Linked DNA regions of Homo sapiens: region 1 is linked to region 2. Evidence: fine-mapped expression QTL. A gene starts in region 2. The other region holds a variant in brackets. All regions are shown on one strand. Distances are between the middles of the regions. Region 1 holds the start of MIR935 (microRNA 935). Region 2 holds the start of CACNG8 (calcium voltage-gated channel auxiliary subunit gamma 8).

Evidence for each region.
Region 1: its variant is fine-mapped to the expression of CACNG8 in whole blood (INTERVAL, PIP 0.97).

What each region holds. Positions count from the first base shown.
Region 1 is chr19:53,980,110-53,991,733 of GRCh38, forward strand. It overlaps CACNG8 (calcium voltage-gated channel auxiliary subunit gamma 8), which reads left to right. Exons shown (of 4, transcript NM_031895.6): 4 at 1,971-10,106. The coding sequence ends at 2,740. MIR935 (microRNA 935) reads left to right here and starts at 2,198; the gene lies at 2,198-2,288. It overlaps CACNG6 (calcium voltage-gated channel auxiliary subunit gamma 6), which reads left to right and starts at 11,528. Exons shown (of 4, transcript NM_145814.2): 1 at 11,528-11,624. RefSeq lists an enhancer at 1-406. The variant A/G (reference allele first, on the strand shown) is at 4,737.
Region 2 is chr19:53,955,501-53,967,197 of GRCh38, forward strand. CACNG8 (calcium voltage-gated channel auxiliary subunit gamma 8) reads left to right here and starts at 7,437. Exons shown (of 4, transcript NM_031895.6): 1 at 7,437-7,925. The coding sequence starts at 7,643. RefSeq lists enhancers at 1,822-2,356, 4,567-5,467, 6,278-6,798.

The DNA.
Region 1 (11,624 bases), 25 kb after region 2:
GCGCGTTCGTGTGTCTGCAAAGCCACCTTGCCCCGAGCACCCCCGGGGGCCCGGAGCCTTCCTAGGCGGTCCCCAAGCTCCATCGCCACCCGCTGGGTAAGGTGGGTGTAGTTCTCGCGTCGCCTTCGGAGGAGTAAACCGACACAGGCAGGTGTCTGGCGCGTAAGACGCCGGGCGCTTAGGATCCCAAGCCCGCCGTCCTGGAGACGGAAGGGGAGGAGCTGGGGAGGGGGTGGGACCTTGAGACACAATTGGGCTCTTGAGGATAGAGAGGCGGGGCTGGGTCTTGGAGGGCGGGCCCAGGAGAGGTAGAAAGTGATCTGAGCGCCGATGAGGAGCCTGCTTTAAGGGGCGGGCCTTTGGAGACTTTGGTGGATCCAAGAGGGGGCTGGTCCTGGGAAACCGTCCAGGGCCGGGAAGTGGAAACTAAAGGGGCTGGGTAAGGGAGACTGAATCGGCCCTTGCCCGTGGCCATTTGGAGAAGGAGAGGCTAGAAAAGACGGGGCGATGCCTGGAAAAGCCAAAGGGGGAGGGGTTATGTCCTTAAGGGCACAGAGAATCAACCTGGCTGATTGAAGCAAGAGGCCGACCAAAGCCAGTCAGTACCTGGGATTGGCCGTCTCAAGAGCTAGGGCCTAGACGAGCAGAGAGCTAGGACTGGAACACTTAAGAGGCACGCAATTAAGGGGTAAGGCCCCCTTTCTACCCCGTATGAGTAGCATTGGGAAATTCCAGGGGCAGAGCTTTTTTGGAGGAGTAGAATACAGAGAAGAGGGAGGGCTTTGCATATTTGAAGAGCAGGGTGTGCTTTGGGGATGGGTCTAGATCTGCAAGGGGTGGGGCTTGGAGGATCTGAAAGGCCGGAGTAGCTGGACCTGAGACCGGCAAGGACCCGAGACCGGCAAGGACCCTGGCCAAGATCCGCACGGGGCGGGGTTTGGTAAGCTGGAGGTGGGGCCTAGAGTAGAAGGCGGGGCCTGCTTTATTAAAGGCAAATTTTTGACCAGTAGGGGAGGGCCTAGAATGGATACTCCGGCAGGAATTATATGAAGAGAGATTAGATAAGTGAAAGGCAGGGCCTGATCACAGCAGGATGACATCATTAACAGAGTTCAAAGGAGCAGAGGGATGAGGCTTGGGAAAAACCCAGGTTTATAACGTTAAGGGTGGAGGTAGACTAACTAGGGCAGGGCCTGGAAACTCATCTCATCAAAGGTGGGTTTTAGACCAGTCAGGGCAGGGCCTGGACTCGCTGGGAGTGGGGCTTAGGCCACCTAGGGGTGGGGCCTGGACCGCTTGGGGTGGAGTTACCACCAGCCAGGGTGGGGTTTAGACCAGCAGAGTTGGGACCTTAGCTAGAGGAGTGGGGTTTATGCCATGTGGGGGCAGCCCAGACCATCTGGGGGTGGGTCCTAGACCACCTGGGGCAGAGTTTAGACCAGCCAGGGCTGGGTTAGACCGGCAGAGGTGGGCCGTGGGCTATCTGGGGGCAGGACCTGGACCATCCAGGGCCGTGTCTGGACCATTCAGGGCAGGGCCTGGACCACCTGGGGGTGGAATTTAGACCATCTGAGGGGGTGCTTGAGCCTGCCTGGGCCAGGACCACGCATGATGCAGTCTGGACCATTGGCGGCCCTACACCACCTGGGGGATGGAGTTTCGACCAGCCGGGGTTGGATTAGACCAGCAGAGGTGAGGCCTGGGCCAGCTAAGAGTGGGCCGGAGCCCTCTGGGTTGGAGCTTAGACCAGCAGGGAAGCGCCTAGAGCATCGGGCGGGGAGTTGTGTTCACTTCTGGCAGGACTTGGGTCAGCCAGATCCAGGACGGGGGTCTAGACCACTCGGGGTGGGGCCTAGACCGCCTGGGGGTGGCGCCTGGGCCCGCTGGCGCAGGCGGGCAGGGGTCGGGGCCGGGGGCGGGGGCGGGGCCGGGGGTGGCCTCGAGGCTCCCGTCTGACCGTCCCCGCCCAGGCCTGAGCAACATCATCGGCGTGATCGTGTACATCTCCGCCAACGCGGGCGAGCCGGGCCCGAAGCGGGACGAGGAGAAGAAAAACCACTACTCGTACGGCTGGTCCTTCTACTTCGGCGGGCTGTCGTTCATCCTGGCCGAGGTGATAGGCGTGCTGGCCGTCAACATCTACATCGAGCGCAGCCGCGAGGCGCACTGCCAGTCTCGCTCGGACCTGCTCAAGGCCGGCGGGGGCGCGGGCGGCAGTGGCGGGAGCGGCCCCTCGGCCATCCTCCGTCTGCCCAGTTACCGCTTCCGCTACCGCCGCCGCTCCCGCTCTAGCTCCCGCTCCAGCGAGCCGTCGCCGTCGCGGGACGCGTCTCCCGGCGGCCCCGGGGGCCCGGGCTTTGCCTCCACGGACATCTCCATGTACACGCTCAGCCGCGACCCCTCCAAGGGCAGCGTGGCCGCGGGGCTGGCGGGGGCCGGCGGCGGCGGCGGCGGCGCCGTGGGGGCGTTCGGCGGCGCGGCCGGGGGCGCCGGGGGCGGCGGCGGAGGCGGCGGCGGGGCGGGTGCCGAGCGGGACCGCGGGGGGGCGTCCGGCTTCCTCACGCTGCACAACGCCTTCCCCAAGGAGGCGGGCGGCGGCGTCACGGTCACGGTCACCGGGCCGCCCGCCCCGCCCGCGCCCGCGCCACCCGCGCCCTCTGCGCCCGCCCCCGGGACCCTGGCCAAGGAGGCCGCCGCCTCCAACACCAACACGCTCAACAGGAAAACCACGCCTGTGTAGGGGCGCGGCGGGGGAGCCGAGGGGCGTGTCCGGGGCGCGTGCGCGGGCGCGCGTGCATCGAGGCTGCCGGGGTCGGGGGCGCCCCCGCTTTCCCCCGTGAGCGCGCTGGAGACTGCTGGGCCCGCCCCACGCCCACCCTCCCCGCCCCCCTCCCCCTCCGAAGCAGGGACCCCGAGGGAGGGGGCAGGGGAGGGAGGGGGCCGCTGTGAGGGAGCGTCGTGTTTTATTTTTTTGGGGGATCTATGGGGAGGGGGGAGGGCCATGGTGTTTTTTGCAGTTTCGAGATGTTTTCTTTTTCATGTTTTGCTGTGTGCATGGGGGGCGGGGCGGGGGGAGGGGAGGGAGGGACTCCCAGCCCAGCCCAACTCCTGGAGAGGGGCCCATAATACACGAATACATAGTTACACCCACAAACTATATATATGCCCTATATAAAGAGACACAGCGAAGGGATGCAGAAAGGCAGAAAGAAGGGTTGGACGCGGGCATTCATTCATTTTTTTCATTCATTATTCCACAAGGGCTTATTAAGCACCTACTGTGTACCAGGCACTGGTACATAAGAAGGCATTGGAGCAGGGGACACGAACGAGGCACAGAAAGGGCCTTCTCATTCATTCATTCATTACCGGCAATTTATTTGTGCGCCTTAAAAAGCTAGGCATTGTGCTCCGTGCTCAGCGTGCAGGAGGCAGGAAAACAGCCAGGGGCCCCGACGTCTCATAGAGTAAACATCTTGTGCATGAGACAGGCATTAATCGATCATGTACATACACAATAAATTACAGTTAGGCTATAGGAGAAACGAGATGCTATGAAATGCTCCATCAGGGGAGCCTAACCCAGTTGTGAGGAAGAGATTTCAGTGGACAGTGAAAGGATGAGAAGAAGCCAGCAGGGCGGAGCTGGGGCAGGAGTGTGGCAGGCAGAGCAGCACGTGCAAAGGCCCCGGGGCAGGAAGGAGCTTGCAGCGAGGGCTGAAGGGTAGTGAGGCAGGTGAGCGGGGATCAAGGTGAGGCCGGAGACACAGACAGGGCCAGATTGTGCAGGGGCTCGTAGGTCAGGAGTTCAGATTTTATTCTAGGAGTGGTGAGGGCCGTGGAACGGGTTTAAGCAGGACGCTAACGTGAATGGTGTACAAAGGGAAGACAGGAACTCGGAGGCAAGAGTAGGAGGCAGAGATGTGCTGAAATACAGCATCAAACATGGGCACGGGCCCTTGGAGCTCACACTCTTGTGGGAGGAAGCACGTAATTACACAGATGCTGAAGCATAGTCATGGTGTCTGGTGTGCAGGAGAAAGCCGTGGGGCTTAGAGACTCATGTGTCTGTCACTCGTTCATTCAGCCACTCACCCATTGCCATTTTTGGCCATCTGCTAAGGTACCAGGAAGTGTGTTAGGATCCAGATCCCCAGGGGTGAAACAGACTCTAGCCCTGCTCTCAAGCAGTTTATTGTCATCAAACACCGCCATCCAGGCAGGGCAATCGGTGCTGGAACCCGGACCACCGTGGGTACCGTGGCACACGGTGGACAGAGTGACCAACTGCCAGGAGTGAGCAGCACTTGGGGTAGGCTTCCTGGAGAATATGATGCCCATTCTGGGTCTTGAAGAAATGAGTGGGCATCTTCTGGTTGATGAAAGGCATGAGAAAGGCTTGTGGGGCCAAAGAACAACTTGGGTGAAAACGGGAGGAAGTGAACGAGCATGATGTATTGGGGTCAGTGCTAACAGTTCTGGGATGCTGATGTACAAGGTGGGGCTGGGAGATGAGGCCGGGAAAGTAGCCACAAGCTAGAGTGTAAAGGTACCAGGGTGGCCGGGCGCGGTGGCTCATGCCTGTAATCCCAGCGCTTTGGGAGGCTGAGGCTGGAGTATCACTTGAGCCCAGGAGTTTGAGACCAGCCTGGATAACATGGCGAAACCCTGTCTCTACAAAACATTAAAAAAAATTAGCCGGGCGTGGTGGAGCACACCTGTGGACACAGCTACTC[A/G]GGAGGCTGAGGGAGGAGGACCATTTGACTCCAAGAGTTCGAGGCTGCAGTGAGCTAGGATCGCGGCACTACACTCCAGCCTGAGCAACAGACTGAGATCCTGTCTCAGAAAAAAAGAGAAAAAGGTGCCTGAGTTCCAGGCAGAGGGACTGAGGCTCTTCTAAGGATGGTGAGAGAGGATGACAGCTGCGCGGGGGCAAGGGCTGTGCGGTGATTGGAGGGGATGGGTTTGAAGTTCACTGAGAAGGCAGAGGGGACAGCGCCCAGTAGGCTTCCCTTCCATATTTGCTCAGCAAGTGTTTCCTGAGGCCTCCCCCGAAGCCTTGTGCTGGGCGGTGCTGGGAGTGGAGAGGTGATTTTGATCTTGCCCTGCTCTCAAGGGGCTCCCAGTCTGGCGGGAAAACAGGCACAGACGCAGCTTGAGGAGGACGTGGCAGCGGTGGTGCCATGCTGCCAGGGGCTCTGCGTGCCCTTCTCTTGACGGAAGGGTACAGATCAGAGCTGGGTGTTCAGAATTTCTCTCCGAGGCCTGTGTGGAAGGACCAGGAAGAGAGAGACTGAAGGTCCCTAGGAAGAATTCTGCCAAGGCGGTTTCAGGAAGAGATGCTGGGAAATGTAGGAAAAGGAATACAAATCAGTGAGACGGAGAAGCGCTGAGTGAGAGAGACGGATACGTGGAGAGAAGAGGGATGCCGGAGCGGGTGTTAAAAGAGACAAATCTGGCCGGGTGCTGTGGCTCCTAATCCCAGCACTTTGGGAGACTGAGGCAGGCAGATTGAGCTCAGGAGTTCCAGACCAGCCAACATATTGAAATCTTGTCTCTACCAAAAATACAAAAATTAGCCGGGTGTGGTGGTGCACGCCTGTAGTCCCGGCTACTCAGGAGGCTGAGGTGAAAGGATCTCGCTTGGGCCTGGGAGGGTGAGGCTGCAGTGACCCGTGATGGCACCACTGCGCTCCAGCCTGGGCGAAAGAGCGAGACTCTGTCTCAAAAAAAAAAAAAAAATTGAGAGACAGCAAATATTTGCTGGAAGAGGGAGAGGGAACTGGTTAGGGGAGAATGGATTCTAGAGTCTGAAGGCCAAACAGAACGAGAGAGAGAGAGAGAGAGAGAGAAAGAATGAGGTTGAGGGTAGGCAGGAGGAAGAGCAAGATGGGGAGGGAGGGGGAGAGCAGGAGAGACCAAACTAGTAGAGTCACAGACAGAGAAAAAGTCAAAGACAGGAAGGTGATACAGAGGAGAGAGAAGAGGAAGAGGAGAGACTGACAGGTGCACAAATCAGAGAAGTCCCAGAGATAGCAGAAACACACACAGAGACAGAGATAGAGAGGGAGAGGTAAGCCGGAGACAGACTCAGAGATTCGCACAAAAAGCAACGTGGAGACTCAGAAGCAAGCGCAGCGTCAAGGAATGCTCCATTTCTGGTGTGTTGTTTTCCCAGTATTCAAGAAATATTTATTGAGTGCCAACCTGTTCTAGACCCAATCTCGGCCAGGGGATGTGGTGGCAAATAGACGGACAAGGGCCTGCTCTCCTGAAACACACTGGAGAGATAAACAATAAATAATATCATTTCAGTAACCAAAAAGTGCTTTAAAAATTAAGCTGAAGGCCGGGCGCAGTGGCTCATGCCTGTAATCCCAGCACTTTGGGAGGCCGAGGCTGGTGGATCACTTGAGGTCAGGAGTTCGAGACCAGCCTGGTCAACATGGTGAAACTTCATCTCTACCAATAAATAAATAAAGTAGCTGGGTGTGCTGGTGTGCCTGTAGTCCCAGCTACTTGGGAGGCTGAGAAAGAAGGATCACTTGAACCCAGGAGGCAGAGGTTGCAGTGAGCTGAGATCGCGCCACTGCACTCCAGCCTGGGCGACAGTGAGTGGTAACAGAATGACAGAGCAAGGATGACTTTAGATGAGGTCCTTGGAGTAGACCTTGTGGCAGAGGTCACAGAGATGTGGATTGTGAGTAGGAAAGAGAGGTGAGAAAGTCTGGGGGCCAGGCATTCCACCCACCAGAGGCAGCCCCAAAGCCCAGAAAAGTAGCAGGTCTTCGAGGAGGCCTGTGCGGTGAGCAGATCCACCATAGGACAGAGGCACAGGGTAGGGGCTGATCAGTTAGGGCCTTGGATCCTTGGGAAGAAATCTGAATTTTATTCTAGATCTGATGGGAAGTGCTTGGAGGGTTTTGAGCACAGGCATGCCATGATCATATTTTTATTTTCTTATTTATATTTATTTTGAAAAAGAGTCTTGCTCTGTCTCAGGCTGGAGTCCAGTGGGCTGATCTCGGCTCACTGCCAACCTCCGCCTCCCAAGTTCAAGTGATTCTCCTGCCTCAGCCTCCTGAGTAGCTGGGATTACAGGCATGTGCCACCACGCCTGGCTAATTTTTTTGTATTTTTAGTAAAGACGGGATTTCACCGTGTTGGCCAGGCCAATCTGAAATTCCTGGCTTCAAATGATCCACCTGCCTCGGCCTCCCAAAATGCTGGGATTACAGGAGTGAGCCACTGCGCCCGGCCTCATATTTTTATTTAAACAAGAACAGCAGAATTACATTGCTGTGCTGAGCATACGTAGACTTCAGGAGTCAAAGGGGAAGGAAGGAGGTAGCGGGCTGTTGCCTTCCTCTGGTTGCTGGAGGCCTGGACCAAGGTGGAGTTAGTGGGATGGAGGAAGTGGAAGAAGGCATGGGATTTTGGAGGCTAGAGCCTGCATTGGTGGTGAACTGGATGTCATAGAGGAGGGAAGGAAAAGGAACCAGGAAGAGAAGAACTCTCTGAATTGGGCACGCACATCTCTGATGGGCACCGATGAGGATTGTTACCAGGAACGAGGAGACTGGGATCAGGAAAGTGGCTTTGGGAGGGAGGAACCAAGGCTTCTCTTTTGGATGTGTCAAGATAGATCTGCCTTCGAGAAATCCGAGTTGTGGTATCAAATAGCCAGTTGGATATGTGAGACTGGAGTTTGGGGGAAAGAGAGGCCGTGGCTCAAAAACGTAAGTTTTGGAAACGTCAACATAAAGCCACAGGATTGGGTGACGTGGCCTAGCAGGGGGGTGGGGACAGAGAAGCGACCCTGGCCAGAGCCTTGGGGACATCTACATCTGGGGGAGAAGGGGATGTAGCAAAACGAGCTTAGGAGTGATCTCGAGGTAGGCTGAAACCAGGAGGGTTACAGAGGGCAAATGCACCTTTGTGTTTCAAGAAGGAGAGGAGACAGCCAGCTGTGCCAAGGGCTGCTGAGACTTGGACAAGGATGCAGAGAGCAGAGTGACCATTAGGTCTGATGACATGGACAGGGTTGGTGATCTTGATAAGATAAGATGTCAGTTCAGTGCAGTGGTGGGGACAGAAGCCCTGCTGGAGTGGAGGGGAGAGAGAATTTGGGGGGAAGACAGAAGGAAAGGGAATTCAGGCAAGTGTGTGTGTGTGTGTGTGTGTGTGTGTGTGTGTAACTGACACAAAGGCCAGGTGCGATGGCTCACGTGTGTAATCCCAGCACTTTGGGAGGCCGAAGTGGGTGGATCACTTGAGGTCAGGAGTTCGAGACCAGCCTGGCCAATATGGTGAAACCCCGTCTCTACTAAAAATACAGAAATTAGACAGGTGCGGTGGTGCACACCTGTAATCCCAGCTACTTGAGAGGCTGAAGCAGGAGAATCTCTTGGGCCCAGGAGGCAGAGGTTGCAGTGAGCCAAGATCACACCACTGCACTCTAGCCTGGGTGACAGAGCAAGACTCTGTCTCAAAAAAGAAAAAAGGTAAAAAAAAAAAAAAATGACCCTGAAAGGAAGTAGGGAGACATGCAGATAGGGAGATGGGAGGCAGAAAATTGCATCCTGCAATTAGCTGTCACAGCAGGCAGGAGCAAGAGAGATGGGGAAGCCCAGGGCCAGGAGGGGAAGATGAATTCAGGGGGCAGGGAAGAGAGGATGCTGTCAGCTAGGCTCTGGCAGATCCCCTAGCCAGGGATGCTCTGCCCAGCTCCTGTCTCTTGCTGCTGTCAGCGCCGGGCACACTCTGGGATTCCCCCTGTAGACCCTGTCAAGACCTATTGAGGTGAAGGGGAAGAACACGTTTTCATCATTCATTTTCAGAAATAAACATTCACTCAGTTCTTGGAAATACTTTCTGGCCAGGCTTGGGGGCTCATGCCTGTAATCCCAGCACTCTGGGAGGCCAAGACAGGAGGATTGCTTGAGGCTTGGCGTTTGAGACCAGCCTGGGCAATATAGTAAGACCCCGTCTCTACAAAAATGAAAAATGAGCTGTGGCGTGGTGGCTCACGCCTGTAGTCCTAGATACTCGGGAGGCTGAGGCGGGAGGATTGCTTGAGTCCAGGAGTTTAAGGTTGCAGTGAGCTATGATTGCACCATTGCACTTCAGGCTGGGCCACAGAGCAAGACCCTGTCTCAGAAAACAGAAAGAAAGAAAGTCAAAGAAATAAAGTCAAAGACAAGAAGGTGATACAGAGAAGACAGAAAAGGAGGAGGAGAGAGACTGACAGGTACACAAATCAGAGAAGTCCCAGAGATAACAAAAACACAACCACAGAGATAGGGAGACGTAAGCCGGAGAAAGACCCAGAGATTCGCATAGAAAGCAACGTGGAGACTCAGAAGCAAGCACAGCATCAAGGAATGATCAATAAAAAGAAAAAAAAATATTTCCTGAGGACTTCCAAGTACAAGGCCCTGCAATCTCAGGCCACTTCTGTCCCATCTCTGCCTTCAGAGGGGGGGACAGGTAGTCCAGACAATTAGAATACAGAGGGGGCTGTGTTCTGACGGGGCCACGCGGGCATTGAGGAAACGCAGCAGGCCCCTCCCCTAGCTGGGGCGGGGATGTCTGTGTGCCATCATCTCACTCCATCTGGTCATTCCTTTGCCCATTCATCCATCCATTCATTCAAGTCACCCCATGCACATTTTCCAAGACTGCCTGTGACCTGGCCCTGTGCCGGGTAGAGCTGAGGATGCCAAGGTGAATTCCTCCTGTGCCTGGCCCCGGCCCCAGTCTGCTGGAAGAACCAGACACAGACAATCACACTGCGGGGAAACACGTGCTCCATCGGAAAAGTCCAGAGCAGGGGGTGGGCAGAGAGGCCCAGCGTGCACCAGAGCCTCGCTCAGGTCAGCGCCAGGCCTGCCTGGAGCAGCCAACTGTGGGAGAAGAAGGAGTTGGTGAAAGGTGGGTCCCACCTGGGCCGTCCACAGAAGGGCTGAGGGGTAGGGGGTGAGGGGTTGAAGATCAGGCCCTGCCGCCATGCCACACGGCTGTCCTCTGTCCCTGCTCCTGGGGGAGCTGAAACTGCATGGAAGGTCCCCCAGGGGTGCCCCGTCTAATAAACTCGATGAAGAGGAGTGCTGCTTTCATTCTGTGCCCCTGACAGCCGGCCCTGCCCTGAGGCCTGCGCTTTCTCCAACATGGAAATCAGGCCTTCCATCCTTCAAGACCCAGGGTTCTGGCCCCAGTCTCCTCCCTGAGGCCCAGGACTCTGGGTCTGCCAACGCCTTGACCAGGAGTCCAGGCTCCCCGGCCCTCCTCCTCCCTCAGACCCAGGAGTCCAGGCCCAGCCCCTCCTCCCTCAGATCCAGGAGTCCAGGCCCCCTGCCCCCTCCTCCCTCAGACCCAGGAGTCCAGGCCCAGGCCTTCCTCCCTCAGACCCAGGAGCCCAGGCCCCCAGCCCCTCCTCCCTCAGACCCAGGAGCCCAGGCCCCCAGCCCCTCCTCCCTCAGACCCAGGAGCCCAGGCCCCCAGCCCCTCCTCCCTCAGACCCAGGAGTCCAGGCCCCCAGCCCCTCCTCCTTCAGACCCAGGAGTTCAGGCCCCAGTCCCTCCTCCCTCAGACCCAGAAGTCCAGGCCCCCAGCCCCTCCTCCCTCAGACTCAGGAGCCCAGGCCCCCAGCCCCTCCTCCCTCAGACCCAGGAGTCCAGGCCCCAGCCCCTCCTCCCTCAGACCCAGGAGTCCAGACCCCCAGCCCCTCCTCCCTCAGACCCAGGAGCCCAGGCCCCCAACCCCTCCTCCCTCAGACCCAGGAGTCCAGGCCCCCAGCCCCTCCTCCCTCAGACCCAGGAGTCCAGGCCCCCAGCCCCTCCTCCTTCAGACCCAGGAGTTCAGGCCCCAGTCCCTCCTCCCTCAGACCCAGAAGTCCAGGCCCCAGTCCCTCCTCCCTCAGACTCAGGAGCCCAGGCCCAGCCCCTCCTCCCTCAGACCCAGGAGTCCAGACCCCAGCCCCTCCTCCCTCAGACCCAGGAGTTCAGGCCCCCAGCCCCTCCTCCCTCAGACTCAGGAGCCCAGGACCTAGGAGACCAGGTTCCTCTCCTCTCAGATCCAAGATTCTGGGTACCCAGGCCTTCTTCCTCTACCACTCAGAAGTGGGGTACCGAGGCTTCTTCTCCCTTAGGGACCCAAGACTCCTGGCCTCAGGCCCTCCTCCCTGAGACCCGGGGCCCTGCCTCCCGCCCCTCCTCCCTGGTAACCCCAGTCAGACTTGCTGCCCCGCCCGTCTCCTGCTGCCCGGGAGACTGCGGAGCTGGGACTCTCGGCGCCGCTCTTGCCCCTTAGTGAAATGAAAGTCCCATCAGGCTCGGCCCCTTCCTCCCCGGGCGGCCTCCCTCCCCCCTTCCTCGTCCCCTTAAAACACCCGGGATCCCTATGGCAACAGGCGCCGGGCGACAGGTGCGGGTGTTATTTACGGGTCAAGCCCGAAATAGCCCCGAGGGTGGAGGGTGGAGGGTGGGGGGTGGGCGGGTGGGGACGAGGCCGGGCGCGGGCGGAGGCCAGGCCGGTGGCGGTGGCGGGCACAGCCGGACGCTTCGGAGGCAGCGCGGAGCTGGGGTCGGCGCGGGGCCGAGGCAGGAGAGCGAGAGGGGCCCCTG
Region 2 (11,697 bases):
ACACAGTATCTCCTTGGACTAATGAAAATATTCTAAAAGTGATCTGAAGTTGATGATTGCACAGCTCTGTACAATTAAAAGCCGTTGAATTGTACACTTTAAGTGGGTGAATTGCATGATATGTGAATTCGATCTCAATAAAGCTGTGAAAAAAAGAGATATACTCTTTAGTTGTTGAAATAAATCATGATGTAATCATGCATCACTTAGTGTCACAAAATTACCAATAGAAGAACTAACACTTGAGGAAGAAGGGAAGGAAAAGTGAGGGCTGCATGAATTGATTTGTTATCTATTAGAGAAAAAATATCTATAAATAATGTATAATTTTGATTCCAAAAGAAAATCATTATTTAGGGATGTCAAGGCAAGTAAGAGAAGAAATAGCTAAGAATATTAATAGACGGCCGGGTGTGGTGGCTCATGCCTGTAATCCCAGCACTTTGGGAGGCCGAGGCAGGCAGATCAAGAGGTCAGGAGATCAACACCATCCTGGCCAACATGGTGAAACCCCATCTCTACTAAAAATGTAAAAATTAGCTGGGCATGTTGCTGCATGTCTGTAATCCCAGCTACTCGGGAGGCTGAGGCACAAGAATGGCCTGAACTCGGCAGGCAGAAGTTGCAGTGAGCCGAGATTGCGCCATTGCACTCCAGCCTGGCGACAGAGTGAGACTCCGTCTCAAGTAACAAGAACAAAAGCAAAAACAAGAATGTTAATAGACTTTTCCAATAAGGAAAAGGACTTGAGGTGGAACAGGCTAAATTATTTTTATTGTAGTCCCTTGTGTACCATTTGATTTTTTTTCTTTTCTTTTTTTAAACCATGAGCCTATATTGATTGGACTAGGAAATATATTTTCATTTAAAATAAAATAAAGAGGTTTCCCCCAGTTGCTAGTTCGTATAATTTAATAGTTCTCAACAGGGGCGATTTTGTTCCCCAAGGGACATTGAGCAATGTTTGGAGACATTTTTGGTTGTCCCCAAATGCTATTTTTAGGGTGCTATTTGGAGGTGCTATTGGCATCTAGTGGATAGAGGCGAGGAGTACTGCTCAGCATTCTACAATGCACAGGACAGCCTCCACCACACAAAATTATCCAGCCCAAATGTTGAGAACGTTGAGATTGGGAAACCCTGGCTTTAAAAAATTATCTTCATAGTCGTTCTCACCAGTGCAGTTGTATCAGCACAGGCTCTGGAATTTGATGTCCTGATGAATGTCCTCCAATACAACTGACCTCTCAACCTCAGTTTTCACATCTTTAAAGTGGAGGCTGCTAACAGAACCCACTTCTTTTGAAGATGGAACCAATACCCTCAGGCTCCTTGGAGTCTGTAATATTAAATGCCCAGTTTGTTTTTATTTTTATTTTTTTCGAGACGGAGTTTCACTCTTGTTGTCCAGGCTGGAGTGCAACGGTTCGATCTCAGCTCACTGCAGCCTCCACCTCCCTGGTTCCAGTGACTCTCCTGCCTCAGCCTCCCAAGTAGCTGGGATTACAAGCATGCACCACCATGCCCGGCTAATTTTGTATTTTTAGTAGAGACGGGGTTTCACCATGTTGGTCAGGCTGGTCTCAAACTCCTGACCTCAGGTGATCCGCCCGCCTCGGCCTCCCAAATTGCTAGGGTTACAGGCATGAGACACTGCACCCAGCCTAAATGTCCAGTTTATATTGGTTATCATCATTGTTTGCTGATGTATCTCCCCCCGCATCCCCCAGCAAAAGAGCAGAAAATAATCAACTTTCCTCAAACGAATGAATTCCAGACCCCTTCCCTTGGGGGCTGTGTTTCTTAGCTTCTAAACCAGGAGTGTTGGAATGCATGTCTAAACTTTCTCCCATGGGGCGGGGTGAGAATTAAGTGAAACGACCTAAAGAAATTTCAGTAGAAATGTGAGATGCTGGGGACTGAAAGATATCGCCCCTCCAAAGGAAGGAACCAGCAGGAGCAAACACTAGGTAAATAGATTTAGGGAACACAGGTTATTCCTGTTTCTGCCAGCCCCCAGGAGGGAGCAGTAAAGGTGTGCTGGGTTAAATGACTATGAATTTCACCTATTGTTGGCCGCCCTCCACCCCCATAACCCCTATTGTCTCAGAGCCTCAGGTTACTCATGGTTAATGTAGGAACATTGGTGCCCACACGGCAAAGATTCTGTAGGACTTCTGTAAGACAGCGAAGCATGCCAACAGCCTTCAATCAGCCATGGCTACTAGTTCTTAGTTTCTGATAACATTTTTACGAGGATCGGGTCTTGAGTAAACGGCTTGCCTAGAGCCACGTGCAATCCCACTTCCCATCCGCGTTCTCACTTGGTTGGAGGCAGCTTCTGTGCCCTTTATAACCAAGAGCAACTGAGTATAGAGGAGAAGAAGTGTTTTGTCCAAGGTCACACGAAGCCTTGGGAGCATCCGTGAAATTTGGACCCAAGACCGAACTTTCAGACTCTGATCTCAGACTTTCCACCTCCGATTGTTCCACTTCCCCAACCTACTAGCTAGTTCTAGAACGGACAGATCCATGCTTCTCAAAACTGTTGCATAGACCCCTACCCAGTCCCAGACAAGTTTCTTTAAGACATATTTGCACCCAAGCTTTTGGCATTCTACTCTCCTTCCCAGCCCCAGCCCCATCTCGGGGGCATCTAACTCTACCCCTTCTTCCCCATCAGGTTTGAACTAGGGGAGGGGAGGGGGATGAGAAGAGAAAAGAAAAAATTGTTGGTGAAAGTCAAAAGGCTTGTTAACGTGGTAAGTTCAATATTGTTTTATCTGGGGTGGTGGGGGGGGAATCTTTGCCCTCGCCACTTGGAGGAGGAGCGGTGGGAAGACCCCGGGAAGTTGCGCTTTCCCTTGGATTTTGGGAAAGGGGAGCATTCCTGGGGTCCTTTTGAAAAGGCCCTCCCCTCATTTCCGGCCGCCGCTGCCAGCCTTGGCTGGGCGCCTGGATCCTGTTGCTATGACGACAGGAAGAGGCGGTGGCGGCGGCAAGCGATGCTGAAGAGAGATGGAGGCTAGTGGGGGTGGGGGTGGTGGCATTGGAATGGGGGAGGGGGCAGGGATCCGGGGCTGGGGACGCGGGAGGGGGCGGGGGCAGGGGTATCCTTCATCTCTGACCTCCTCGGGGCTTCTCAGCCTCACCCCTCTCCCGTTATTTTTTCTGGGCTTCCTTCGGGTGCATCCCCAGTCTCTGTGTCTGCCTCTGTTTCTCTGGATCTCTCTCTCTTCCTGTCTCAGTCCCTCTCCGTCTGTCTCTCTCTGGGTCTCCCTCTTTTCCTGCACTTGCCTTTCTTTCCCCAGGTACCTTCTGCCATCCAGGCCCTTCTACCCTCCATTTCTTTCATTTACTATCTTGCTCCCCCGCTCCCTCTCCGCATCTTCTTCTCTCTTTAAAGCTTCCTTCTCTCTAGCAAGACCTTGCCCCCATCCCCAATTTCTCTCCCTACCCGCTCTCCATTTCATTCCCTCTCCCCCCTCTCTCCCCCATCCTCTCAGTCTCTCTCTTTCTGTCTGTCTCTCCCCATCTGTCCCTCCTCCCTCCTCTCTGGATGACTCTCTCCCTCTCTCTTCTTTCCTTCTGTTTCCCAGATCCTGACCCCCCCCACACACACACTTACCCCAGCCCTCCCCCACCCCCTCCCCCCCAGCCCCTGCGTTTCTCTCTTTGAGTCTCTGTCCCTGTCCCCTTCTCTCTCTGGATATTTCTCTGTGTGTATCTCTCCAACTTCCTTCTGCTTCCAGCCGCTGCCTCCCCCAAATTTCTCCCTCCCCCATTTCTGTTTCGCGGTCTCTGGGTCTCTCTCTTTCCGTTTCTCCTCGTCTCTCTCTGTCTCTCTCCCTCCCTCTCTGGATCTCTCTCTTCTCCTCCGGCTTCCTTCTGCCACTCGACCCTGCCCCCCTCTTTCCCTTCCCCCATCCATCTCCTCTCCGAGGCTCCCCATCCCTCAGCAGCTCCCCTCCCCCTCCCTCCCTACTCCCTCCCTCTCGTCCTCCAGCTCCGCACTTTACCCAGCGACACGAGAACCAAATTGTCTCCTCACCTTTTTTTTTTAATATATATATCCCGACCCTCACTCCCTTGGGGCCCAGGCTCAGAGCTGCCCCCCAGCCCCAGCCTGACCTCAGCACCCCCATTCCCCATACGCCTCCTCATCTCCACTCCCCGAACCAGGTCGGACGCCTGGGTCCCTCACTGCTGGGGGAGGGGGAAGCAGCGAGAATTGGGAGCCAAAAGGTTTTTCTGGGGGGGGTGCCAACAGGGGGGGCTCGACGTCCCCTCCTCCGTGCATCGGAGAGTTGACCTATCATTAACAGAGGTGAGACAGATCTTTTTATTAATCGGAGGTGGGTGGAGGTAGAATTAATGTTCTGTGATCCCCCCCCCCGAATTCTGGAGAAAAGAGCTGGTCCCCTTCCTAAGGAGAAAGGAGAGTGACCCCCTCATATCCGGAAGCTTTAGAATTGGGGGTCCCCAGCTCTCTTCTCCCTGGCAGCTGCTGAACGATGGACTAAGAGTCCCTAAAACCAGATTGTGCCCCAAATTGACAAAATGAAAAGATCTTCGAATCTTTTTTTTTTTTTTTGGACGGAAGGAGAATTTCCCTCCTTTCCCTCCTCTTCCCTTCCCCTCTTATCCCAGGTTGTTAGGGGCCTGGGGTCACAGGCTTACCCCACTGAGAGCAGATATCTGTTAAGACAGGGTAGGTGGCCCTGCTGGTGGTGAGGGGCACCAATTCGGGGAGAAGAGGCCAAGAGATCAAGAAGAGAGGAAACTCAGCATGCGGACAGAAAAGAGAGGAAGGGGCCGGCGCCCAGGCCGGGAGGCTGGGGGTTGCCCTGTCCAGCGGGCTGCTGAACTGTGGCCTGAGGAAGGGCTGTGTGTGGGCAGACGGGAGTTGAGGTGGGGGAGGGAACACAACGTGTGGGGCACTAGGCCCAGTTGCCATGGAGACACCCCCCATAGACAACCTTTTTCCACAGCCCCTCCTCGGAGCAGCCCCAGTCTGAGGCCAGCTGATGGGGGGCAGTGGAGACGGGCAAGCAATCAGGAGGCCAAGGTCACCCTGTACTGGGACCTAGGTTCTGGTTTTTGTTTTGTTTTTTTTTAATCCCCTCTTCGTCTAAGGTTTCCAGGCTCTTAACTATAGTGGGTTTGGGGGAAGAAGTTGAAGAAGCAGTGTGGAAGCAAGTAAGGAGTACATCCCCCAGAGGACAGTTGGGGTGGGGGAGACAGGCAGGGCTGGGGGCATGGTGGTCGGGGGAGAATGTGGAAGAGAGAAATGAAGGAGCCACGGGGCAGCGGGTGCAGGCTGGGAAAGTATTCCTAATTGAAAAGAGAGTTGTAGTCTTGCGGATCACATTTTTCAGAGGGACACAGTCTACTGGGGGGGCTCTTTCTGCATGTGGAAGAAGATGAGGGGCTACAGTGTGTGTTCCTGTACAGGTGAAGTCGTAGAGGGGAGTACTGGGGGGCGTTCCCAAGAAGGGAAGCCTGTGGGGGCCTGCGGAGGGGATTTTCCGGGGCAGAGGAGAACCTGGGAGCTATAGCGGTGGAGCAAGAGGAAGTGAGTCAAGGGAATTCTATATGATGAGAGAGAAGTTGGGGAGGATGCTTCCTGGTACATTGAAGAGAGAGTGGGCTTCAAAGTGAGTTAGGGGGATCTCAAGTTGGGGGAAACAGTGTGCTGAAGATCCCGTGTGATGATGAAGGGCTACGAGGAGGGGATTTGGAGGCAGTGGGAGCTGCTGTGAGTGCAGAGGGGCGGGTGGGTGGTACAGTGTGCCCCCTGCTATGGGAGTACAGGGCAGAGATTGGAATGGTCCTGAGTGGAGAGACATTTGGGGTCTGGAGGAAGCCATTCTTGCGAGTAGAAAATGCCGTGGAACTCACGGAGGAAATTTTTCTTAATGGAGGAGAAAACGATGGTTATGATATGAGTTCGTTTAAGTTGTGGGGGGGGGGGTGGCGGGGTGGGAAGATTCAGAAAACTCTTCTAAAGCAAAAGAGAGGGTGGGGGTTTTCCTGGAGTAAAGGCATAGTATGGGGTGGGGAGTGAGTGGCTTGTGGGGAGACAGTGGGGGCTGTGACAGGGAATGGGCTGGAGATGGCGGGGGGGGGGCAGCTTGCAAACCAGTGGGTCTGATGTTGGGTGCATTAGAATTCCCCAGGGAGCTTTTAAAAACTTACATGCGCAGGCCACACTGCAGACCAACCATGTCGGACTTTCTCAGGTGGGACTCAAACATCCGAATTTTTAAGGTCCTCGGGTGATTTCCAGGTGTGTTGGAGGCTGCCCGAGGCAGGAAGGGGGCTTCCAGGGAGAGGAGGCTGACTGAGGGTGGCTGGTGATTCCGAGTTGCACAAACTGTGAGGGTCAGCTGGGATTTTCTTTTTCTTTTTCTTCTTCTTTTAATTTTTCCTTTTTAGTTGAAGAGAGGTTGAGAGATTTATTTTTTCCTAAGGAGAGGAAACTGTGGGGGACCATTTGGAGTGATGGAATGACAAAAGCCAGACCGGAGGGGGCTCGCGGAGGTTACTCCCACGGAAGTGGTGCTACTCGGGCTTCTTAAGTTGTGGAGACGCTCAGGGAAAAGTTGGGCTGACAGGGAAGGGTTCTAGCGGGTGGAGAGGTGGGGCTTGCAGGGGAAGAGTGGGGAGAGCTGGTGGGCGCCGCATGGTGATGGGGCGGGGGTCGCTAAGGAAGGAAGAACGCGACGGGGGCTCCTGGGGAGGAGGCGGCGGCGTGGGGCTTGGCATCATGGCGGGGGGTGGCTTCCCATGCGATGAGGATCGTGGAGCCCCCTGGGGCGGAGGCGGCGCGGGCTAGGGGCGAGGGCTGTGAGTGTGAGCGGTGGTGGGGACTCCTCCGAGTGGGGTTAGTGGGATGGTGGGACGACTTTCTTGGGCAGAAGACAGGAGTGGAGAGAGATTTCATCTTATTTATTAATTATTAGCGGTGGTGGGGACTCCTCCGAGTGGGGTTAGTGGGATGGTGGGACGACTTTCTTGGGCAGAAGACAGGAGTGGAGAGAGATTTCATCTTATTTATTAATTATTAGCGGTGGTGGGGACTCCTCCGAGTGGGGTTAGTGGGATGGTGGGACGACTTTCTTGGGCAGAAGACAGGAGTGGAGAGAGATTTCATCTTATTTATTAATTATTAGCGGTGGTGGGGACTCCTCCGAGTGGGGTTAGTGGGATGGTGGGATGACTTTCTTGGGCAGAAGACAAGAGTGGAGAGAGATTTCATCTTATTTATTAATTATTATTATTATTATTATTATTATTATTATTTTTGAGAAAGAGAAGCAGTGGAGCCCCGAGTGGAAGGAGTTTCTGGAGCTGAGGCAGGGATTTTGGGGGGGGGGGGGCGGGGACTGGGGGAGGTACCTGTGCCTTCTTCTCCTCTAATGCGAGATCTCGCTCCTTGCCCTCCACCAGCCGCCGACCATGGCCGCGCTCTGACCCCCTCCCCGGCCGCAGCCTCCTCCTCGCCGCCCCCCTCCCCAGCCCCGCCGGCCCCGGGCCCCCCGCTTCTGCCTGCGCTGTGAACCCCCCCCCAGCCGCCGGCACGGCCCCGCCCCCGCTGCCCCGGTGGTGGCCCACGGCCCCCCGGCTGCCCGTGGTCAAACTGGAGTCGCTGAAGCGCTGGAACGAAGAGCGGGGCCTCTGGTGCGAGAAGGGGGTGCAGGTGCTGCTGACGACGGTGGGCGCCTTCGCCGCCTTCGGCCTCATGACCATCGCCATCAGCACTGACTACTGGCTCTACACGCGCGCCCTCATCTGCAACACCACCAACCTCACGGCCGGCGGCGACGACGGGACCCCCCACCGCGGGGGCGGCGGCGCCTCGGAGAAGAAGGACCCCGGCGGCCTCACGCACTCGGGCCTCTGGAGGATCTGCTGCCTGGAAGGTAGGGTGCGGGCGGCCCTCCCCGCAGCCCCCGCCGCTCCCCTCCGAGAGACCCTGAGCCTCCCGGGGCTGCCTGTCCCTGATCCTGGGGCCCCCTTGGGCACCCCTCCTCCTCTGCCAGAGGGGCTTCTGCGCCTTCCCACTCGCGCCCCTGACCTCCTCTCCCCTCCTTCCCACTCCTCCCTGCGTCCTGGCACCCTGCGGAATTCCTCGGCATGCTCCCTCTGCAGCCCCTCTGCCTCTCCGCTGAACCCCCTTATCCTATCTTTCCCTAGTCCGTGTCTCCTGCGCTGCCCCATCACACCCCTGCATCTTCCCTCTCTCCAGTACCTGGGGCTCCTCCTGTTTCATTTCTTCCACTCTGCCCTGTGCCTTTTCTCTTTTTTTTTTTTTTTTTGACAAGGTCTCACTCTGTCGCCCAGGCTGGAGTACGGTGGCACAATCACAGCTCACTGCAGCCTCGAATCCCTAGGCTCAAGCCATCCTCCCACCTCTGCCTCCTGAGTAGCTGGGACCACAGGCATGAGCCACTGTGCCCAGCTAATTTTTTTTATTATTTGTAGAGATGAGGTCTCCTGTTGCCCAGGCTGGTCTCGAGCTCCTGAGCTCAAGAGATCCTCCTGCCTTGGCCTCCAAAGTGCTGGGATGAAGGGCATGAGCCACTGCACCCAGCAGCCTCTTTCTCCCTCTTTCCCGTCAGTTCATCTTGACCCTGCTCCTCCGCTCCACCTGCCCCTTCATTTCCTCTCCCTCGTGCCCCGTGACATCTTCTCTCTCCCGACATTTCCCCCCCAGTCCTCTGAAGTCCCCTGCCTCTCCCGCCCCCTTTCACGGCCCAGTCTTCCGGTCTGTCTCTTTCCCCTTCTCTTTGGCTGCTGCTCCCCTGAAACTTCGTGCCTTAACTCGCCCTCACTCATGACTTTCTCTCTTTTCTGCCTTGTGCTTCTCCTCCTGTTCATCTTTCTCTTCCCATCAGTGCCCCCACCCATGTCTCTCCCACCAGGGTGCCCTCCAACCTCCCATCCTGGTCCTTTCCTCCTTTTTCCTTTAGTGGACTCCACTTCCTCTTCCTCCACTCATGCCTCCTTCGACGTCTTCCTGACTCGATGCCTCAGGCCTTCACGTTAAGGCTTCTCGCTCCTGCCCCTGCTACCTCCTCGGATCTTCGACTTGGTTCTTTTCCTCTGTCCTGTTCTCCCTCTCACAGCTTCTCTCCTAGCTCGGCTCCCTGGCTCTCGACTTCCCCACTTCTCCAAGACTCCTGCCCTCTGCTGTGCCAACCCCTTCTCTCTCCCACTCTTAGCATCAGTATTTCTTTCCTGAGTATCAAGTAGCTGCGGGGCTGGGAAGCAGGAGTCTTGGGTGCCAGTTCTGCTGCATATCTGCCCTGCTGTGTGACCACTGTCTTCCCTCCTGCACCCCAGCCTCACAGCCCTTGTCTGCAACGTGAAGGAGTGGAACCAGCCATCCTGATGCCCCCTTCGGCCAAAAGATTGAAATCTCTTGCTTCTCTTTTTCATCCCCCTCTATTTCCTCTGCCCCTTCTTCCTCTGTTTTGCTGAGTGTTCACGACAAGCCGGGAACGTTATCTCGTTTAATCCTATGAGGTGGGCACCACCTCGCTGTTGGGGATGGGTAAACTGAGGCTCAGAGAAGTGAAGTCACTTGCCCAAGGTCACCTAGCTGAGAAAGGGGCCGAGCCAAGAGCAGAACTCGAATCTCATGGATGGGATTCACAGATGCGCTCTGTCTAGTGTACAAAGTGTTTAAAACTGAAAGCAAAATCTGAATCCATTGCCAACAGTTAAAAATAGGGAGGCTTCCCATTGTAGTTCTGATTTCCGGCTTCTTCTGAGCTGGCGGAAGATCTAGCACAAGCCTGTGTTCTACCCTGACCACGATGGGCCGGATCTGAGCAGCAGCTGGGGGGTCTCCACTTCCCCACAGTCACCTCCATCTGCTCCGTCTCGCCTCCCATTCCTCCCACGGCTCTCGTGATGTTCTTTGCCTCTCCTGTGGAAGTTTGAGTTCATGTCCATTCACTGGTCTGACCAAGTACCAGGCATAGAGCCAAGTGTGAGGGCTCCCATCATGGGAGCCCTAGGACAGCACGTGGCATCTAGTAGGGATGTCATTCATTCATTCATTCGTTCATTCAACGTCCCATTTTTATTGAGTTTATATTATGTGCCAGGCATTGTTCTGGATTCTGGGGCTGCAGCAGTGGAAAACAAACAGACAAAACCTCCTGTCGTTATATATCTTATATTCTAAGGGAGAGACAGATAATGATGGAGGTAAAGTCAACCTTTAGGGTGTTAGATAGAACTGAGTGCTAAGGAGGACAAGGAGTTGGGGGAGGGGATGGGAGGGGTCAGGGATCCCCGTGGGAAGTAGATAAGGAATCTAGGAAAAGCTTCCCCGAGCAGGTGACATTTGATCACAGGTCTGAAGGAAGTAAGAGATGGAGGAAAGTGCTTCAGACTGTAGGAATAGCAGGCGCAGAGGCCCTGAGGTGGGAGTGTGGCTGTGTGTTGATCAAGCCAGTGTGAGGTCAGCGTGGCCGGGGCAGAGTGGGTGGCGGAGAACGTAGGAGTAAGAGGTGCAGTCGTAGGGGTATCAGGGTCCCCATCCCACAGGTTCTGTTTTTTAAAAATTATTTATTTATTTATTTATTTATTGAAACAGAGTCTTGCTTTGTCACCCAAGCTGTAGTGCAGTGGCGTGATCTTGGCTTACTGCAACTTCGGCCTCCTGGGTTCAAGCGATTCTCATACCTCAGCCTCCCGAGTAGCTGGAATCACAGGTGTGTGCCACCATGCCCGGCTAATTTTTGTATTTTTAGTAGAGACAGGGTTTTACCATGTTGGCCAGGCTGGTCTCGAACTTCTGACCTCAAGTGATTGGCCCGCCTAGGCCTCCCAAAGTGCTGGGATTACAGATGTGAGCCACCATGCCTGGCCAGCTTCTGTGTTTGTTTTTGTTTTGTTTTTCTTTTTTTGTTTTTAGGCAGGGTTTTGCTCTGTCACCCAGGCTGGCGTGCAGTGGTAAGACCATAGCTCACTGCAGCCTTGAACCCCTGAACCCAAGCCGTCCTCTTGCCTCAGCCTCCCAAATAGCTAGAACTACAGGCACATGCCCCCATTTTTTGTAGACACAGGGTCTCACTATATTGCCCAGGCTGGTCTCAAACTCCTGGGCTCAAGCAATCCTCCGGCCTCAGCCTCCCGATGTGTTGGGATTACAGATGTCAGCCACTGCACCCGGCCTCACGGCTTCTTATACATCCCAGAAAGCACTTTGCTTTAGATTCGGAGATGGGAGCCGTTGAAGGTTCTTGAGCAGAGGAGTCACACGAGCTGACTTACATTTTTGCGGTATGTTTCTTGCTGCTGTGTTAACAAATGACCGAGGGGAAGGCAAATGAGACAACGAGAGGCTCATCTAGGGTGGGGGCAGCAGGGTTTGGGAAGTTGTTTGAATTTTGAGTATATTCTGGAGCTACCGTGGGCAGGAGTTGCTGATGGAGCAGTTGTAGGATATGAGAGAGAAGAGCCAGGGGCGTCTCCAAAGCAGGGTTTTTCCACCGCAGCATGGTTGATATTTTGGGGTGGATAATTCTGTGTGGAGGGGCCGTCCTATGCATTGTAGGATGCTGAGCAACAGCCTTGATCTCTCCTACTAGGATGCCAGCAGCGCCCTTCCCAGTCGTGACAACCAAAATTGTAAATTGTGTCTAAACATTGTCAGCTGTCTCCTGGGGGATAAAATCG